Linked DNA regions of Homo sapiens: all the other regions are reported to be linked to region 4. The links are microRNA targets in miRTarBase. Many come from high-throughput screens and were not tested one by one. Region 4 holds a microRNA gene; each other region holds the end of a gene's coding sequence.
Evidence for each region. The annotated mature microRNA hsa-let-7c-3p reads CUGUACAACCUUCUAGCUUUCC and lies in region 4 at 2,784-2,805, opposite strand. An mRNA with a match to its seed (bases 2 to 7 or 8) in the 3' UTR can be bound and repressed. Matches are read on the target gene's strand: a 7mer-m8 pairs with bases 2 to 8, a 7mer-A1 pairs with bases 2 to 7 and ends in A, and an 8mer does both.

Region 1 (5,076 bases), not on the chromosome of region 4:
TACAGTGGATGAAATACAGTGGAAAAATAGGGTATTCCTACCAAAGACCAAATTCCAGCATATAAAGGTAGTGTTTCAACTTTCGTCAAAAAAATACAACTTTCAGTATTTCCTAAACACAAAAGACAACTCAATCATTTTCTTATTCATTACAATTCTCATTCTTGCAAATATAATTCTAGAATTTATATACAGTACAAACTATTTTCAATTACATCATGCAGGCACAAATAAAAGGAAACAAGTTAGAATCATATCAAAGAAGAAAAAAGCATTAGGATTCTTAGATTAGAACTACACCTGATGCAAATCTTAAAAACAGATCTACAAATAAATCTACACAATTATGTGAAAGATTAATACTTTTTTTGTCTAAATTCAGCTGCAAGAGGAAGCCATTTTGTAAACCTAGAGAATGAATCCTGAGAAGGAAAAAGAAAATGTAAGGAAAAATGTAAGCCTTCTTTCAACTCAAATTTAGAAGAACTTAAGCCTGAAATGTGTAAAATTCATCTCCATATTAACAGATATAAAGTAAAAAGGTGGAAAGCAAAAGTCAACAATTTCCAAAAAATTATCCACACAGAGGCAGCTATGGTTGCTAGTCCCCTCCCCTTCGCTCAACAAGATTTTAAAATGTTAACCTTAAAAAGGAGGAGTACGTTTATTTGGTCCTTTCTTTGCCCTTCCCTCCACATTTCATCTCCCATTAGATATATGATATATTTTTAAACCATATGAACAAATGAACCTTGAAACGGGATTTTTTTTTTTTTTTTTTTTTTTTTGAGACAGAGTCTCACTCTGTCAGCCAGGCTTGAGTGTAGTGGTGCTATCTTGGCCCACTGCAACCTCTGCCTCCCAGGTTCAAAGGATTCTGCTGCCCCAGTCTCCCGAATACCTGGGATTACAGGTGTCCGCCACCATACCTGATTAATTTTTGTATTTTTGTGGAGACGGAGTTTCACCATGTTGGTCACACTGGTCTTGAACTCCTGACCTCAGGTGATCCACCCACCTCGGCCTCCCAAAGTGCTGGGATTACAGGCGTGAGCCACAGCGCCTGGCCTGAAACTGCATTTCTTATTAACAAATGCAATGCAGTCTCTACTATTTCTTTGCCGAAAATAACAATGAGTATGAAGAAAAAAAAGGGGAGTTAAAGCTTCTGTTTTTGGCACAGGATACAGTTAAGTTGTGCTACTGGCTCAGACTCTTCTTGGTTGAAGAGCATTCTCTCATCATCTGCAGAACTTTAGTGCAGTAACTGCTGAGTATTTGAAAGTCTAATCACCATTAAATCCAAAATGTAAGCCCCTAGGTAAGACTTTTAGAAAGATACATACTCTGTCACTGGTGGTTCCTGAACAAACGGATAGTATGTGGCTGCAGAGCTGGGGAAGACACATGCTTCTGAGGACTCTAACCATGCCACATTGAGCCCGGCAAATCTGGGGACAAATGGTTTGACATCTGCTGATAACTTGATGCCCTGAGGAAAAATATGAGGTTTTGGCCACAAACATTCAGAGATCAAGCAAATATAAACAAACAAAAAGACCCAAGAGGTGTTCCTAATAGCCCCAGAAATGTTCCCGATGTTGTTTAAAAACTTCTGCCTCGTAAAGACAAGAACCTGCTTGCTAACGATTTCTCCCCAATGCTTTTTTTTTTGTAGAAAAGGCAGTAGTTCAAACATTAAAAGTGAAAAATGACAACGAATTCAAGTGGAAATAAAACAACACAGATTATATAGTTTAGATCTTGGAATAAGGGTGTTTTTACCACAGATTCACTTAGAAATAATAGAACTGCACACAGTACAACTACTGCAGTCAAATACACGTGGACTGTTTAACTACAGCACCCAAAACACACTGCAGACGTTTATTTCCATTACATTTTCTTGAAAAAGTTGCACAAAAGCATATGCATTTTACTCATGAACCACTAAGTCTTGCTTTATTGAAATACCAAACCTTGCTTTGCTAGAAAATATTATCACCACGAGCCTTTGAAATTTCAATTCACTAAGATTTCTTTCTTTAGTTTTTAGTGACGTAGTAAGAGATTTACTTTCACCGAGAATTTTATGGGTCTAAAAATGATGCAAGCGATCGCCAGGGCTCCATCTAGTGGTAATGCTGAGTACGTAGAGCGGAGAATGACGTTCAGAAAAACGCAGGATCCTTTAAAACAATCTATCCGTTCCCAAGAGCGCGGGAAGCTCGCCAGAGTCCCCCCGCCCCGACTGCGGGGAGCGCCGGGCTGGGCCGCAGTCACTGCGCTGGGTGACATCGCACCACAGACGCGGCGCTAACTGTGGGCGGGGTCTGTAGCCGCTGACCGCCACCCCAAGGCGGACCCGAGGCGGGGCGCGAAGATCGCGGCCACCCGGTAGGGCGCTCCCGTGCCGTCACCAGCATCCGACCCACGCCCGCTGGACCAGCCCCGTCACCGCCCGGCCGAGCCCCCAGTGCGAGGCAGGCGGACGGACTGAGGCTGCCGAGAGAGCCCCCGTCGGCCCTTACCTCGCTTTCGGGCTCCCGCGGCCCCTCCGACGCCATGCCGCGAGGCGCGGAGGAGGCCGCGTCACGGAGGCCAGCAGCGGGCCGTCGGCTTGCCGGACAGACAAAGCGTTTCCGCCCCCGCAGGCGACGCCAGGAAGTGCGTCACAGCAAAGCGACAGAGCCCGCCCTTTCTTCCGGCCGGAAGTACGCGGCGGCGGCACTGGACCTGCGCGGGCAGCACGTGGAGGCAGTGGGGCGCTTGCGGAAAATGGGGACCCCCAGGAGTCCTCTGGGCTGGGGACCCACCGTAGCTTGCGGGAGTCTTGGATCTGCCTTTTAGTGCTGGGATATCGGAGATAGTCTCCACCAAGGCAGTAGCGACTATAAACAAGAGTTAGGCCGTGATTTACTTTTCTCCCCTGGGCCTCACGAGTCTAGCGTTAGGACGGGATGGGGTAGTCTGGAAAGGCCTCTCGCTGAGGTGACCTTTGAGCAGTCACCTGAAGAGAAAGATTTACTAATAAGGAAACTGAGGAGGCCGAGATTACTCTCACCCCCGCCACTGCATTTCCCTAAAATTTCCCCAAGATTGGTGACTTACAGGAATTGCATACCCTGTAGGTCCTACAAACCTGGAAAGCCTACAAGACTCTTGATGGTATCCTAAATTTCCAGAAACCTTAAGTTTGGAAGTAGCCACAGAAAATAATTTAAAAATCGCTCGGTTTCTTTCAAAAATTAAAAAAAGTGCTAAGATATGGTCAAGAGATGGAATAGTATAATTTTCACGAGAAAAAAAAAGTTCTACACAGAGCAAATTCGTTAAATATTGAGAGAAATGTATAAAGTGCGGCAGGGATAGGAGGTTGACCAAAAGTACAGGGAAGAATGCAGAGTGGATTTCAATAGATGGAGGAGGAACTTTCCTCTCACTCAAAGGCTTGGAGGAAAGTGCAAGTGGATTTAAGGAACAGAAAATGTCAGCAAAACAGGCTATTTGAGGAATGGGGATTAGGTTGAGGCAAATTGTAGGTTTCCTCTGTCCCTTGCACAGACGTTAACTCTACCATTGAATACGAAGTATTTCAAGCAAGTAAGGCAGGTGCAGCTCCAGTTTTTTCAGATTTCTGTCCTGGTGGGTCTCAGTTCACTACACAGCCTCTAGCAGAAGTGATCCTTAGGGTCTGGTCTGGCAGGAATTTATGCTGGAAGTTTAGGGGTAGCTGTCGCCTTCCTTTCAGCACTATTGGGTCTACCCGGAAGTGTAATGAAGTTTACTTGATTTTGTCATGTTTCTGTTGGTTACCCTGGACACAACCTATGGTAGTGGCAGTAGATTTTAGGATGCTGCTAATCACAACCTTCAAAATTTATTGCCCTCATGTGTAAAGACACCCTTTCTTAACCAATGGACCTGATGTATGCTGGCTGCTCATTTAAGATGTTTCTATAGCATAGCAATTAATTAGAATAACTCCAAAACACTTTCCTAGCAGCTAAAAAGGCAAAGGTGTTTTACAGTGTTTTTGAACTTTTAAAAATGTGGTGATACTTTATAGGAAACATTATCCCTACTTTGGAAATGTAGAAGAGGATAAAAAAGAGGTTTCTCCCAAGACCACCAGTGGCCAGTGAAGTAGCCCAGATAGTATTAATTTGGGCTTTCCTGTTCTAGACAATTCTCCAGGAATTCAAGAGGTAAAATCTACTTTGGCTTTAGTTTAAACATATCCCTGGTAATTAATTTCTTCATTAAGTGAATTAAATGGTATCCAGATCATACCGCACTATTTTAAACTCATTTAACATCATCTTTAAGGTAAGTTAACTTCCTCAGAGCTAAAACTATAACACTGAAATCAATTTCAATAGTCACAAATTTCAATAGTCACAAATTAAGAAAATATACCTCAAAAACTTGAAACAGTGATAAATGCAACATACAAACTTTATTGAACAAAAGTAAACTGTTTCAGTAAACTCAAACAGGCACTTAAGAGAAAAACTGACTGGAAGAACTTTTATCTTAAACATCTTACAGTAACCTACTTGCAGTTGCATTTAACTGAGCTCTGTTGCTGTGAAGAATACAGCTCATGCACAGGTATGGATGAAAGATTTGTACATTTCTCAAGTATTCACTGAATACTACCTTATATACACATATACATTAAATTTGAAAAAGATTTGACGATCCCCAGATAAACTTCATTTTTGTTGATCTTTTGGAAGAGGTCGTCTAAAGAGAAGAATATGTGGTTCTGTGGAAAGAAAATGTTTTGAATCATTTTAATATGATTTTCATATACTCAACAGAAATTCAAAAGTATTCTCAACTAAGCCAGAATAAAATAAACTAAGTCCACTATTAATTGGTTTGAGGTATCCAAAATGATTTTTTTTTCACAGTTACTGTCTACAGTAAATAGATTAAAAGTAAAAAGATTACCTCTTTATAGGGAAAAACACCTCCTTCAAATCACCTACAGGATCTCATACTAATGCTCATCCCCATAGATTCTGTTTCAATAGGTGGGGCACAGAAATCTACACTTAAGTTCTTCAG
Region 2 (5,076 bases), not on the chromosome of region 4:
GGATATAAGGAAGAACTGTCTAGTTTCTAGAAGTCGTTTAGAAAATTATTCTCACATTATCCATTATTCACTCTAACAGCAAGTAGCATTTACTATAACACTACTTAAAGTTTTAGAAATGCTACTTGTAGAATACATTTCTAGGCATTTTAAATTTGGCACTGAATCTTAGAATATCCAAATACAACCTTCTTTAAAGTCCTAATTTTTCCTGAGTTGATCAACTCATTATATATTGGTTGGGATGTTGCTGCTCCTAATGAGAAACTCATCTCAAACCATCACCTCTTGTTCAGTTTTAGGCAAACTGAAATAAGGTCATTCAGTGCAGGGCTGTGTAGTTATGGTTACTGGTTATTTAAAAGACAGAGAAACAGAGACACAGATGCAGACACACTACTCATTTTATTTTACTTGTCAGATTCCTCTAATAAGCATATAGAGACAGGCCCAAGAGTGGCTTCACAGTAACTATAAAGGCCACAACAGAGATTTTTAAAATGATATATAAATCATAAAAACAAATATTCACACTAACACTTAGTGCCAATTTGCCTATATAAACATAAAGCAACCTAAAAAAAAAAAGTTGCCCAACCAGCAGGCAACACAATCATAACACCCATAACCAAAAAAAAATAAAAATAAAAATCTATTAATCAGTACAATCTAGCCAGCAGAATCAACTCTAAGCAACTACAACACATCGAAAAGGCACAAAGCATTCAATGCAGAAAAGACTGGGTATAAAAGGACACTGTCAAAGAGCTACTGCTCAAAATCTGACATTTCATCACTGATATATGAGAGTGATATGGTAGGAAGAAAACTCAAGCTTATAAACATATTAGTTTAACTGTGTTTTTAATTTGTTTGCAATTATATTGAAAAGCAACCAATGATAATTACTTATTAACCCTTAATTAGCAGTTTAGAGTCACCCTACAAAGATGCTTTGACACTTTTTAAGGTTGATAGAAAATTATTAGTGTACCTATTTCATGACCTGCCATCGCCTAAAAGGAAGTCACCTAATAAAGCACCAATTTAAAACCATATTTTTGCTACTCCTATTCTCCCAGCAATAAATGCCTTAATTACTTAAATGTATGCAAAGACTACTATCTTTACAGTTGGTTAAATCTTGCTGGCATAAGGACCAACCCCTAACCTTAAATGGGATTTTAGGCTGCAAAAAAAATAGGTTGGGTTTCTTACAAAAATAACCTCAACTTGACTTAAAAAAATTCGAAGGCAAAAATTATTTTGATAGTGTAGTGTAAAAAATAGGCTTATTTAGCATTTAGTAGTGTTCTCTAAAAAACATAACATTGTATTAATTAAACTAAGGAAAACAGTATTCTCACTTATAATTGGTTTGTCAGTATGACTATTCCCAGAGTATTTTCTTTTGCTCCTATTTTTATACATATAAACACAATAATCAATCTCAGTATTCAAACTAACAACTTTTTTTTTTTAAAAAAATCCATTATTCTAGGACTTCAACTGTGCTTCTTTGGACAAATAGTTATTCAAGCAAGAAAGAATTTAAAGTCTTTTAAACTATTTAATACCTACTAAAAATCTTTGGTGCATTTAAGTCAAAACCCATTAGATTAACACATTCCTGCACTTGATAAATTATTCAATTTACAGATTAAGTGCTAACTGCTATCTGCTAAAAAATTAATTTAAAACAATAAATTATGCTCACAAAATAAAAAAATTCTGAATGAGGCTAAACTTAGTTGCAAGATTCAAAATTTTAAGTACAGTTACAAAATAAATGGATTAGAGTTATAGAGCATTTGTCCAAAATACTCTAAATCAAATATTACAAAAGGTCAACTGAAAAGAATAGGCCTCCTTTTATACTTTTTGTGCCAACTTTTGTCAAAAGCCTATATACATTCAGTTTGCCCAAATCCATGAGGTTTTCACAATTGTAAAATTTCTTACATTTTTGGAAATTAGAGGCAGCAGATTAGTTTCATTTTGTTTTTGTTGTTGTTGTTTTCAATCATCCACTGAAACTATTACTTCACCAGAATTATATTACGCATCTCCCAGACTAGGTTAAGATTAAATGACAGGATGTAGTACCTGGCACATAGTAAGCATTCATTAATGCTAGCTTTCTTCTTTCCCTACTAGTAGCTCTGCCACCTACTGACCATGTGAGCTTAAATGAGTCCTTTTATCTTAACCTCAAATTCTTTATAAAGTGGGAATATAGCTTGTTTTTACTATTTCAGGGCTGGTTATGAGGTTCAAATGAGATAACATATATGAAAGCATTTTATAAAACAGTAAATCACTACTCAAGTTTAAGTTATCTACAATAGTAACTAAATACAATTATATTATTATATTTCACTTTACTAAGAGATGTATTCCAAAAAAGTTCTGTGTAAACCAATTCCTACAATTAAATCATATATTTAAAGCATTAGGACGGACATTATTATTAAAAGAACCCTAAAGTAAATACCTTCAAAAATCAAAGTATTCTTTTCAATGTGAAAATGCAGTATCTTCTTTTTCTGCCACCAAATGTATAATATACCATATACATACATGTATATAAATATATATATACTATCTGCCTTTTTATAAGTCTAAACTTTTCTACATTAGCTTATATGTAAGGCAGGCTACATTTTTATGTATGATTTCTTTCATTATAGTAAGATTTTTAGTTATAATATTGCCAGTCTTTATGATGAAAATCATAAAGATATGTATTTTTAAAAGTCAATTTGAAAGACTAACAGACTAACAGTACCTCATATAGTCAACCTCAATCATGTAAGTACCCCAGATATAACATTTCCACACAAAGAAATAAGAATACTTTAAAAAGGAGAACATAGTAAGTATGTCCACTAGTCTTAAGACAATTACAACCAAACCTTGACAAATGAGGCTAAACTCAGATTGGTTTTATTATTTATATGAGCTACTTTGGTTAACTGCCTCAGTTTTCAATATTTCTTTTGTTTTACCTCCGCTAGTATGGCGAATGTTGCTGTAAAGTACCTTTATTTCTTAAGTGCTTCAGCGACAGTTTCCGCCATTACTAATTGATTAAACTTTATTCATTAAAACTTCACTGTTTTATTTGTGATTTTTTTTTTCACAAGGGCTGGGCTAGACTTTACAGTTTACACACACAAAAAAAGTGCTTAAAGCAATTAGGAGTGTAAACAAAACTGAAATAGAAAACTTTTAAAACTGCTATTTTCTACTAGTTTATGTACAAATGACATGCTAATAATAAATCAACCCTGTCTAGTCTAATCTTCAAGCAACTCTACTAGGAAACATTATCTTAGTTTTTAGTTAAAATTGACTTGAAAATATGGAAAGTGCATGTCTTTAAAGGTATTTTATAATTTTGACTTTTTCCTCAATTGTAATCACTGAGGTTTTGCTGTAACTGCTATTTCCTTTCACCAAGTCCTCAACTTTTGTCTCATACAGAAATAAAAATTAAAGGTTAATTACAGACATTAGGCTTTTGTGAAGGCAAAATTAAAGATCTGGATTGCATGTAAATCTGTATATAAGTAGTGGTTCCATTTAATTAAACAATGTTAAGTTAAATTAGGCACAAATTTCATAATCTGTTTGGCACCTTTTCTAACAATTGAACACAAAATATCTAGGTTCTGTTTCCCAGAGTTTCTATCAGCCAAGTAAATGAAATCAAAAGTAGCATGTTTAATTAAATTTCATTGAGTTACAACTGCTCTTTTCTTAGTGAGATGAAGACATATGCTATGTTGTATTGTCAACATTTCTGAAATAAATAGTAAAGTACAAAAGGTGAACTTACCTTGAAAAACATCTAGTTAAAACTCTCATATTTTTCTTGTAACACATTTTCAGTTTGTATAATTTAATGCCCAGACCTATGTTTGCCTTTCTTATTCATAACAATTGAAGTATAGGCAAAAACCAATTATCTGGATTATTATTTCAGTCCTACAAATAATAGCTAATCTTACATTAGTTAAGCTTTCTGGCTTTGAGTATATCAAAAGTCCAAAGGATAATGATAACCTAAAATTATGTATGAATGGAAAGACAACACAGAAATATCCAAGGCATTCTTGTAAATTCAAATTCCTAATTTCAATTTTAAAAATTTGTATAACGTAATATTGAATCTTAGGATAAGAAACAGTTGCAATTATCAGTGTACTCTTAATTCCTTCTTAAAGGCTACATGGTCCTCAAACTTGTTTGTAAGAAGGGCTAGGAAGAAGAAGGAGAGGAATGAGACTAAAGAAGAATAAAAATTTCCACTGATGATTAAAAAAAATACTTCCATAATATCAGCAGCTAATAATTGCAAAAAATTTAAGAAACCATTAAAAGTTAGCACTAAATAATCTTTAAAAATCACAAAAATGTGCACTTCAAATATTATGCCAGAAATTTTGTCCAAATATTCATGTTCAGTAAACAGAGACACATAGTTTTCTTGATTTGAAACTGTTCTGAGGACTTGAGAAACTAGAGAAAACAAGAAAATAGCAGCCCCACAAATTTAAAAGCTATCATCTCTACCATTAGCATATAACCATCCAAAAATCTGTGGAATGTTTAGATTTACTCATGAATGATGCTCATTCGTAGAAATATTTTGAACACCAGTAGTGCTATCAAGGCCCAGTAATGTTCCAAGATAAGATTGTTCTCTAGGATCTAGCATTTGTTCAGGTCGAACTGGGTGAACTATATTTGCAGGTTGAGGAGTAAGAGTATATTTTTCCAGAAAAGCTAAATCCGCTGCTCGTGGATAATCAGTTGACTGTGGCTGTGGTGACAGAATCTCATGAGAAGATGGTGGGAGTGTGGTAGTATGACGCACTAGGTCACTCGGAGTGTCAGGCATCTGAACTGGAACCAGAGTTACTGGAACACATACTTCAGCAGATACATTCTGTAACATCGTCTTGGCTTCCGACTGATAAACTTTGGGCTGGTCCATATATTGTTTTGTTTCTGTTTGAAAGATTTTGTCATCAGATGAGTACTCAACTGGCAAGGATACAAGTTTTTCCT
Region 3 (5,076 bases), not on the chromosome of region 4:
GAATCTACTTAAGAACCCAAGGAAAAATACTTGTGTTTTCAATATAAGAAATTTGCAAGGAATAAAAAGACATGAGAAAGCCTACAGAAAGGACCTAAAAAATATGACATTTATGAGAAAATAAAAAATTTAAACACTTACTGGATATTTGATATCAAGGAAGAATATTTAAAGATAACCTATTTATGGGGCTGGGCACGGTGGCTCACGCCTGTAATCCCAGCACTTTGGGAGGCTGACGTGGGTAGATCGTGAGGTCAGGAGATTGAGACCATCCTGGCTAACATGGTGAAACCCCGTCTCTACTAAAAATACAAAAAATTAGCCGGGCATGGTGGCGGGCGCCTGTAGTCCCAGCTACTCGGGAGGCTGAGGCAGAATGGTGTGAACATGGGAGGCGGAGCTTGCAGTGAGCTGAGATGGGGCCACTGCACTCCAGCCTGGACGACAGAGCAAGACTCCGTCTCAAAAAAAAAAAAAAAAAAAAAAAAAGATAACCTATTTATGGATAAAATAAAATGATGCCTGAGACTTGTTTCAGAAAGAGTGGAAAGGGGTGCATGGAGTACAGCTCAAATAAATTTGGTCAGAAATTCAGAATGACTGAAACAGAGGAATGGGTAAATGGAGATTCTCTTAAAGTAAAAATAATTTACAAAATTCTTATAAGAAAAATAATTGTGTACACCGTACCACTCTCAGCAGTGAAGCCATATACAATTGGGGTCTTAAAAACGAAGGGTGGCTTGGTACTCACATCATCATGCAAAACACACAGGAACTTTATGACCACTTAGTCAACAGAGTACCAAACTGAATTTGTTTGGTCAGTGACTTTCTATTACACTAAATTTGCATGTAATTGTTTCTCGGCTAGCACCAATAGGACAGACTGTATTTCAGAAAAAAATTCAAGTGAAAAATTAGTAAAATCATTTTGTAACAAATGCTGCCTATGACAAACATTAGCTATAGGACTAAACAAACTTTGGTTTTAAAATGAGCAAGGCAAACAGCAAAAGGTTCAAACACGTAGGATTTTTATGGGGCAAAAATTACTATCAAGTGTTTCAAATTACATTATTTCAAGTGGGTAATCTGATGAGTTTTATATTTGCAAAAGTAATCTTATTCCAATTATCCATATCCACAGTTCTGAAGATGCAGACCACCTGGACACAGGTAGTGACAAGGATGAATTTTTCTGTGCAACTAAAAGTGGTGGGTAGGGGAGGGAGAACCACATACTTCCCTGGTTAATTTATTTCTAAATAAAAATACGGTAAATTTGCTTGCTGATCATGAAATCTGTATTGAACAAACATCAGTTTGACTTACCTGTTTTCATGAGACAGACTATGGTCATAAAAATCACCTGTGTGCTTCAGTTACCTGAATAATTCAAATACTCAACCTATCAACAGAGTAAGCTATATATTTCTCTCAAAAAACTCAGCATTTCTTCCATTAGAGATTACTACATCTAGAAAATTCTAGAGATCACTGAATTTTCTGCCATGTGTATTTTGGTATGAACATATTTTTAAAACTAGCCATTCTTTCTTAATAAACAATTTCAATAAGGCTAAAATTTCATATTAATGTACTTAAAAAGTGAAGAGATACTTGAAAATTTTTATATCAAATATAACCTATCTTTTCAAGTCAATATAACAAGATTAATCTATGGTAATTAATCAACACACTATAGAGTAAGACTGAACTTTCTAAATACTTAATAGAACTTTGTGAATCCCCAATATACTTAAAGTTTGATTTTGTATATTTGACTGCCAAAGCTTTAATAGTGTTAAGACCTAACAATTCATCTTGAAGAATCTTCAACTTTCTGAAAATTTTGGTTTGTATATTTAAGAGTTAAGGCTTATATTAACATTTGGCTTCTATTAACAGATAAAATAGGAGCTTAGAATATATACAAAATTTCAAAACTGATTCCTAAAATTCCTAAATTTCTTTTTCTTTTTTGAGATGGAGTTTCGCTCTTGTTGCCCAGGCTGGAGTGCTATGGCGTGATCTCGGCTCACCGCAACCTCCGCCTCCTGGGTTCAAGCGATTCTCCTGCCTCAGCCTCTCGAGTAGCTGGGATTACAGGTATGCACCACCACGCCCGGCTAATTTTGTATTTTTAGTAGAGACGGGGTTTCCCCATGTTGGTCAGGCTGGTCTTGAACTCCTGACTTCAGGTGATCTGCCCGCCTCGGCCTCCCAAAGTGCTGGGATTACAGGTGTGAGCCACCGTGCCCTGCCTAAAATTCCTAAATTTCTAATGAGTGGCAAACACAGAATTCCATCTATGGCCAACTGAGGCAACAGAAGACTTACTACTGTGTACCTACTTCCTAAAAATTACTCTGAACAGGATTCCCAAGTATGTATACTACAAGGATCCTTTAGGAACTGGTTTACTTCAATAAGGATCATCTCTCTTAATGTCTGATGTTCAATTAGCTTAGAGTAGTGAGACACAATTACTTCAATTCCAGATTTAAATCCCTATCATGACATTAGTAAATTACCAAATCCTTCTAAGCCTGCTATCCTCATCTACAAAATGAGGATAAAATATATAACGAGAGTTTTTGTGAGAATTAAATGACAGCATGCATCACTGTCACGTAAATAGAATTCAAAACTGGCTTTTTACTCACATTTACATTCTTAGTACTCTCTCTGGGCTGGATTTTATTCTTATATTTTCTCTAACCAGTACCCTTTTTGATATATTATTCTCAGAAGTGACCTCAAATCCTTTGTTGATATACATAAACTCCAAGAAGAACCAACCAACCAACCAACCAACCCAATCTAGTTTTGTTCCAGAGTTCACAGTATAAGGAAAAGAGAAACATGTAAGTAAGGGGAACAAAACGAAGAGTGAGAAAACATTTCCGTGAAGAAAGCATTTGAAAGAATTCCACATAGGAAATAGATCCTGAAAAGTTATTTTCATAGTGGTTTAATAGGTGTCACAAAAAGGTATTTTGTGGCAATGTCATTCTTCCTCAAAAATTGAATACCTTCATTTATTTGCCAATTTCATAAAACAGCATTCTGGAGGTCAATTTTTTCAAAGTGATTTAAAAATAAGTAAAACATTTTTAAAAAGAATTAAACTTGAAACAGACCTCATCCACTGTAAATTTTAGGCATTACTATTCCTGAGTGTCAACTATACATATCAAATGATTAAACACCTCCCTCCTGATTTAGTCAAGATATCTGCAGTAAGTAATGTGTAAATGACAACTGTTCCCAAGACTTATGATAAAAGCTTTTAGCATAGATTAGAAAATGAATAAACATCTCAACAAGTAAAATTACTCTTTTCAGCATTAAAAAATAATTTGTGAAAAATGTAGTGAGTGTAATTATGAAGTGTCATATTCATCTCAACTCTAGTTCTAAAATAACCGGACATCATTTTAACCAAGAGAAATGCTGGTTTTCCAAATAACAGGTTACCTTTACCCGAGGTTTAAAGAATAAATATCAGCATCATGACATCACTAGAAAGAAATTGAAGCATACAAGGAATAAACTATAGTTTCTTTTTATATCAAAATGTACTCTTGAAAATGTGTTTGGCACAGTGCTAAATCATATATAGTTAATACTAAATATTGCAGGATACAATAAAACCCTGGAGTTAATTGTTTACACCCTCTTATGGGAATGAAAATAATAGATACCAATTATTCAGAAGTCAGCCTATACAAACTGTATAAACAATATTTTATGTTTTGCTTTGAAAACCAGTGATATAATAAATTTTACATAAAAGACTGTAAAATAATATAAATGGATTTAAACAGATTTTTACAATAAGAAATTCAAATGGAAACAGACAAGTAACAAAGAGAAGTAAAAAAATTTATTGCAGTATTCGCTCCACCAGATTACCTGGGGATCCCTTTTCTTGTATTGTTTTCAGGGTGACCTAATACATCAAAATCTACATTTACAAAAACTCCTTCTGCAGATAGGTCATAGATACTGCATGCTTTTTTTTTTTTCAACAGAATAAATTATATATCCAGGAGATTCTGCCATTTTACAGCCTGGAAAAAACAATGCTTCCCTGGAAACTGGGCTAAGCTAAAGAAAGCCATCCGCTGCTAGGTTAAACTCCAAGAACACTTTATTAAGAACATTAACAGACTAATTTCCAACATTCACTTGTTTATTTTTTTTAAACAGAAAGTTTTTTTTCCAAGATATAAACAATTTTTGTTAAACTATAATACAGTGGGAGTAAAAATGAACTGAGAATCTGTTTCTGCTGCACAACAGCGAAGGGAGCTCCCACAAAAATGTTTGCCCAACATTTCCTTCTTTTGTTCCTGCATCCCAGGTTCCACTTACTCTTCATAAAACTGATTTTTTTTTGCCAGAATGTTGGTATTTCAAGTTTTTCTGCCTTTTAAAAAAATTCCTGTAAATTTGGCTGCATGTACAAATTCATTAGCTGGAAGTCCCATCCTTGGCGGCATACAGGGATCGTAAAGTCTGAACAACTTTATTAGTCAGCTTATTAGCACTCGTTAGAGCAATTTTTTTGTAAATAATGTCTGACTCTTTAATAGTGTCTACCCAAGGCACCAGTTTGCGGCCATCACGGCGCTTAGCCTCAGTCCAGGAGCCACTGTAGGAGCCTGCCATCCACTGAACACTGAAGCCACTGCTGGTTTTCTGCACTACTCTTGCAATTTGTGGTCGATCTTTGTACTTTGGACAGCAAATAGCGATGACATCCATGACGTCAACACTTTCATTCATCTGTGCTGCCAACTCCGTAGAGTCTGAATTTCGTTTTGACCTTCTCAATGACTAAAACATTGGGAGGGGGGAAAAAAGACCAAGTGTTACACAAAAGAATTTTAGTGAAATTATTGTTTTTATTGCTTTTAATCCCTTGACGCCGGGAGTTGGGATTTCCCGGCACACTTCCATTGCCGGCAATGAGACGCACCGTGACCGCCAGCGCCAAGGGGTTAACATATACTTGTAAAACCATATAACTCTTAATTTGTACCCGTGTCTTTACTCTTATTG
Region 4 (5,076 bases):
TATGAACAATCTTTCGCTTTGATTTCTTAGACATAATTTAACTATTTTTAATTACTGACATCAGCAGTGGTCCTATATCTTGGTTTCTCAAAAAATCCTATCAATTTCTATATCTGACATTTGCCATTTATTTATAAACCTGTAGCAAGTTACATAGCCCTCATACCTGGAGTAGCAAAATTTATTATGAATCAAAGGCAAACATACAATTCTTCCACGTAGTGTTCTTGTCCTACAGAGAAGTTTTAAAAATTTTCTTCATTGGTACTAACTATATCCTCCACCTTGCAGGTTTTTTTCTGTCTTATTGTTTTGTTTGTTTTGTGTTGTTGAGAACGGAGTCTCATTCTGTCGCCCAGGCTGCAGTGCAATGGCATGATCTAGGCTCACTGCAACCTCCGCTTCCCGAGTTCAAGTTATTCTCCTGCCCCAGCCTCCCAAGTAGCTGCGATTACAGGTGTGTGCCACCATGCCCAGTTAATTTTGTATTTTTAGTAGAGATGGGGTTTCACCATTTTGGTCAGGCTGATCTCGAACTCCTGACCTCAAGTGATCCACCTGCCTCAGACTCCCAAAGTGCTGGGATTACAGGCATGAGCCACCACACCTGGTCAGATTTTTTCTTATGATTTCTACATAACTAACATAATGAATCATAGAGACATCTTCACCATTCTTCAATTATTCTTCTATTATACTCATTCACTTTAGGTGATAGTATATAAAAGAGGCTGTAATTCTAACAATTCATTATAGTACTTTTGTAAGATTATCCTTAAACTGCACATCTTACTTGACCTCTGTGAGGCACTTAACTCCATTACACTGTAAGGAAATAGACATTTATTGGCAATCATATTCTATTTGGCCCATCAATAGATTTGGCTTCTAAATAAATACACCTAGTATTGGGAGATACATACATAGAAACACATAGGAAAGGGATCCTAGGCTCTCAAGGAAAAAACTATTTATAAAGATACAATTGTTTACCCATTTAGTTGTCCCTTTCTTTCATCCGTGGGTTGAACTGCCATCATTAGACACAATGGTGTTCCTATTTGCTATGAGTCACTTTCCTTTTCATCTCTTCATGTCTTTTTGTTTGTTTGTTTTAGGTCTATGTCTACTGCCTCTTATTCATTGCTTCTTGATTAGTCCTTGCAAATATTTTTCTTTCACAGAGAGAAAGAGTCTTTACTACTGTAGACCAATCAAATTATTTTGCTTGAAGTGACTGGTATTCACTTTCTAAGGCTCACATGTTCTACGTGTTGGGGGTAGCCATTCCTTCTTCACTACATTGTTAGCAAGTTCTAGGTATTAAGATATTTTGGATGCCTGAGCATTCTAGAAAGGTCAGCACCACATAGCCAGTATCTTGAGGTCCTTAATATATATTTGCATCTAAACGTCTCTTTAATGAATTCCATGTTTCATATTTGGAGTCTTAAATTAAAGTTCTAACATCAACAACTACTTAATCCTGTGTCTGAAAGATGATCTATGTAAGATAGCCTCACTACACAAATTACACCACTAACAGCTGCTAAAGTTGACAGCAAACTAAGGTTCCAAAGAGTCCCATTTGCTTTGTAACACAAAGAATATTATAAAGTGCCTTTCCTTTAAACAAAAATGTGTTCACATTCTCAAATTATACTTTATATACATATTTATTATTAATTTATTGACATGTTTCTGGTTTAGTTGCTTCTGGTTTATTCAACAGATATAGCTGTACAAAAATAAAGGGCAGGAGACGAGGGAAATACACAAAAGACACAAATCTAATTTTTAAAAATCATATTGTTAAATGAGACTTAAAATAGAATATTTAGTTGAAATTGATGCTAAAAGAAAAACGATTCATCTGGAAAGAAAGGTATTTAAATTCAACAGAAATATGAATTATCTAAGTGTAGGATCATAAACTGTCATGAACTAATTAGTAAAAATGAATTTACTCTATTATTTTTATTCTAGATAAAAAGTACTTCTAAATTTTAACTTATCTGTTTAGAATGAATGAACACATTCAACACAGTCAAAAATCGACACATGTATTACTGATGCGGAGCAGTCCAGGAATTAAATTTAAACAGTTTTAGGAGCAATAAATAAAACTCAGATGTTTGACCACTGCCATAACTCATTCAAATATTCAATAGAAACTCATCACAGAGTGAGGTCTTACACTCCATTCACTAATCCAATAAATAGTTAGTGCTCATTATGAGTAAGGCATTGGAGGGGATACAGTGAAAAATAAAACATGGACTTTGCCCTCAAGGGGCTTACAGTCTAGTGCGGAAAAAATCAGCAAGCACATAAATAGCCATAACATAAGGTAGAAAGTGATGTGTCATAAGGAAAACGCAAATAATGTGCTATGGGAGCTATTAACTCTAGCAGACATTTTTTATTATAGTGTCTAAGCAGCCAATATAAATAGACCAATGATCCATTTGAAAATTAAGGTCTGAATTTTGTTAATCTATAGATGATAAAAAGCTTTAATATTAATGCAATTTAAGTCACTACCTACAATTTTCTTAAAATGTTTGAACATGGAGTGACAACCCATTAGAAATACCATTTTGACATTGTTCATAAGCAGATACAAATGGAATAATCTAATAGGGCTGAAATGATCATTTTAATGTAATAAAGGCCCAAATCAATGATCCAAGATACTCATGACACATTACCTTCTTGCACACAAATTGGCTCAATCAGGTTAAAGTGATGAAGAATTCCTCGACGGCTCAAGTGTGCTCCAAGGAAAGCTAGAAGGTTGTACAGTTAACTCCCAGGGTGTAACTCTAAACCATACAACCTACTACCTCAACCCGGATGCACACAGCTTCCAATGTTGCTTCAAACTCCTTATCATATCTTCAGTCAGCTCCTCCAAATATGGCAGCCATACACCTAAGGGCTTGGCAAGGATATAGATATAATATTCTAACATTTTACCAGTAAACTTTGCTGCTAACTGTTTCTCATAGGACTAACCTAAACACTTGGGTTTCCAGCATAGGTCACGTAAAATGTCTTCTGACCATCTAACCTGCCATAGTTCTAGTCGCAATTAATAGTAAAAGTCAATTGCATTCAGCCTCATTTTTTCAGGAGAAATAGGCTCAATAAAAACATATAAATCCAATGGTAGTCTTTAATTTTCTTACTGAAGTTGAAGAGGTACACTAAGCACTACAGTATGCACTGAAGTTTCTGAACAGAATCTATTCAGATCCTGGTCCAAACCCTGCTATAAAGGTTCAACTTTCTTATGCAATTTACTGTACATGGAATCGAACTTGAATGGGTGTGATATAAACGCTTCCAAGTTGTTGAGAATTGAAGCCTGCCTTGTAAGACAGACAATGATTAAAATAAACATTAAAAACAAAGGAAAATATAATGACTTCAAAAGTATATAATCAACTGGAGTTTAACAGGATTTTACTGAACTATTGTTGAACGGCACTGTGTATAGCATTTTGTCAGATTACCACACTGACACAGACCCATAGAAGCGAGCTTGTGCGGTCCACTTCACCACAAGATCGGATCTACGGGTTTATGCCAATGGGCAACATCTTGCATGGGCCCCCTATTAATATAGAATTTGTTGTAAATATCTGATGCAATTAAGAGTCAAAAATAATATTGATCCTTTAGTATAAATGTTTTAAATGCTGAGTTCTAAGGATGCATATTCTCCATTAAAGGCCTTCATAAATATTCAAAACTAAATACAAATTTATATGCATGAGAATTTAAAAAGTAGTTTATTGAAAAATTTTTCACGAACTGCTTTTGTTTCAATAGTAAATATTTTGGAATTAAACTATTCTAATTGAGTTTTAAAAGAAAAAAGAATCCATACATGCATGTATGAATTATATAATTGTGAGGCATGAATGTAGTATTACGAGCCTATAATTAAAACCAAATTAACTATTAAGTTAATTGTGTATGAGTTAGACCGTGCTTATTTTAATTTTTATAAAACTAGTTTAGTTACTGGTTTCAAGGAATTGGTAACATTATAACTTTCTCATAAAACAGTAAGATCTTGTTCACTAGCTAGAGAATACAGGAAGTTATTATCAGCCTTAAATATATACATCTGTGTCTATAGTCGGAATGGTGCTAAAATTTACAATATTTGGATGAGTTAATATAAAACTAAACTAAATGGCACGATAATGGCATGATTACTAATACTCCACACTAACATTTATACTCCAGATGTATTACATGACATAGGATATCTTCTTTCCTAAATAAAATATATTTAAACTTATTGTTCAAAAAAGATACACTTAAAATGCATGGCTACATACAACTCTCATCTGGTCAACAGGTTGGGCAAAAATAAAATATTACTAAAAAATGTTTTAAACCACCAGACAACAAGCAAACACACAAACGAGTAAACATAAAGCCAGCCACATACACGTTTTTTTAAGATTGTAAACTCAACTGCAACAAAATGATAAGTTGTACAATCATTAATCATTTCACATCTATAATCACTTAGCATTTCCTAATTATATCTTTATTGTGTAAAATAATACTACATACTAATTGCTTAGTGATTTTGCATATTTTGAAATAAATACGTTTTATAGCCTTTATATAGATCATGTGTTCTACATAATTTTAAACCATTATTTATTCTTAAATTGTCCTCATAATTATTAAAAACTATAGTAAATAATCAACAATCATACATTCAGTTGTAGTAAAAATATTTCAACATATATTTATAAATGCAAATGTGAAATAAGAGGCAGCATTGGGTTTAGTTTTACCATAACTATAAGAAAGCATGTTTTGGTTTCATTGTCTTATCAGGTCATGTAAAAAAGATGAAAAAGCATGACCTTATTCCCCTCCTCCTGATTTCACTTCCTTTTATATGGTACAACAAATAAGAAAATATAATTTTTTTCTTTTCCTATAAAGCTTTCTAGTAAACCGTATTGCACCTATCTTAAGCGTATGGATACACAGACATATATTCAATGGGACACAAACTGCCCAATTGACCACAAGAAATTT

Region 1: the mRNA of CKS2 is a reported target of hsa-let-7c-3p. Seed matches in the 3' UTR shown: 7mer-A1 at 4,630-4,636.
Region 2: the mRNA of ZBTB41 is a reported target of hsa-let-7c-3p. Seed matches in the 3' UTR shown: 7mer-m8 at 3,259-3,265.
Region 3: the mRNA of NIPBL is a reported target of hsa-let-7c-3p. Seed matches in the 3' UTR shown: 7mer-m8 at 4,474-4,480.

Annotation. Positions count from the first base shown.
Region 1 is chr9:89,316,068-89,321,143 of GRCh38, reverse strand. It overlaps CKS2 (CDC28 protein kinase regulatory subunit 2), which reads right to left. Exons shown (of 3, transcript NM_001827.3): 3 at 4,441-4,771. The coding sequence ends at 4,719. SECISBP2 (SECIS binding protein 2) reads right to left here and starts at 2,644. Exons shown (of 17, transcript NM_024077.5): 1 at 2,532-2,644; 2 at 1,347-1,492. The coding sequence starts at 2,567. RefSeq lists a silencer at 2,285-2,604 and an enhancer at 2,775-2,994.
Region 2 is chr1:197,154,735-197,159,810 of GRCh38, forward strand. It overlaps ZBTB41 (zinc finger and BTB domain containing 41), which reads right to left. Exons shown (of 11, transcript NM_194314.3): 11 at 1-5,076. The coding sequence ends at 4,625. Among named protein-coding and RNA genes, the nearest start is that of ASPM, 11 kb to the left of the region's middle.
Region 3 is chr5:37,064,302-37,069,377 of GRCh38, reverse strand. NIPBL (NIPBL cohesin loading factor) reads right to left here. Exons shown (of 47, transcript NM_133433.4): 47 at 2,965-4,851. The coding sequence ends at 4,486. Among named protein-coding and RNA genes, the nearest start is that of CPLANE1-AS1, 180 kb to the left of the region's middle.
Region 4 is chr21:16,537,612-16,542,687 of GRCh38, reverse strand. MIRLET7C (microRNA let-7c) reads right to left here and starts at 2,860; the gene lies at 2,777-2,860. All of the region lies in intron 6 of MIR99AHG (mir-99a-let-7c cluster host gene), which reads right to left. It overlaps MIR99A (microRNA 99a), which reads right to left and starts at 3,599; the gene lies at 3,519-3,599.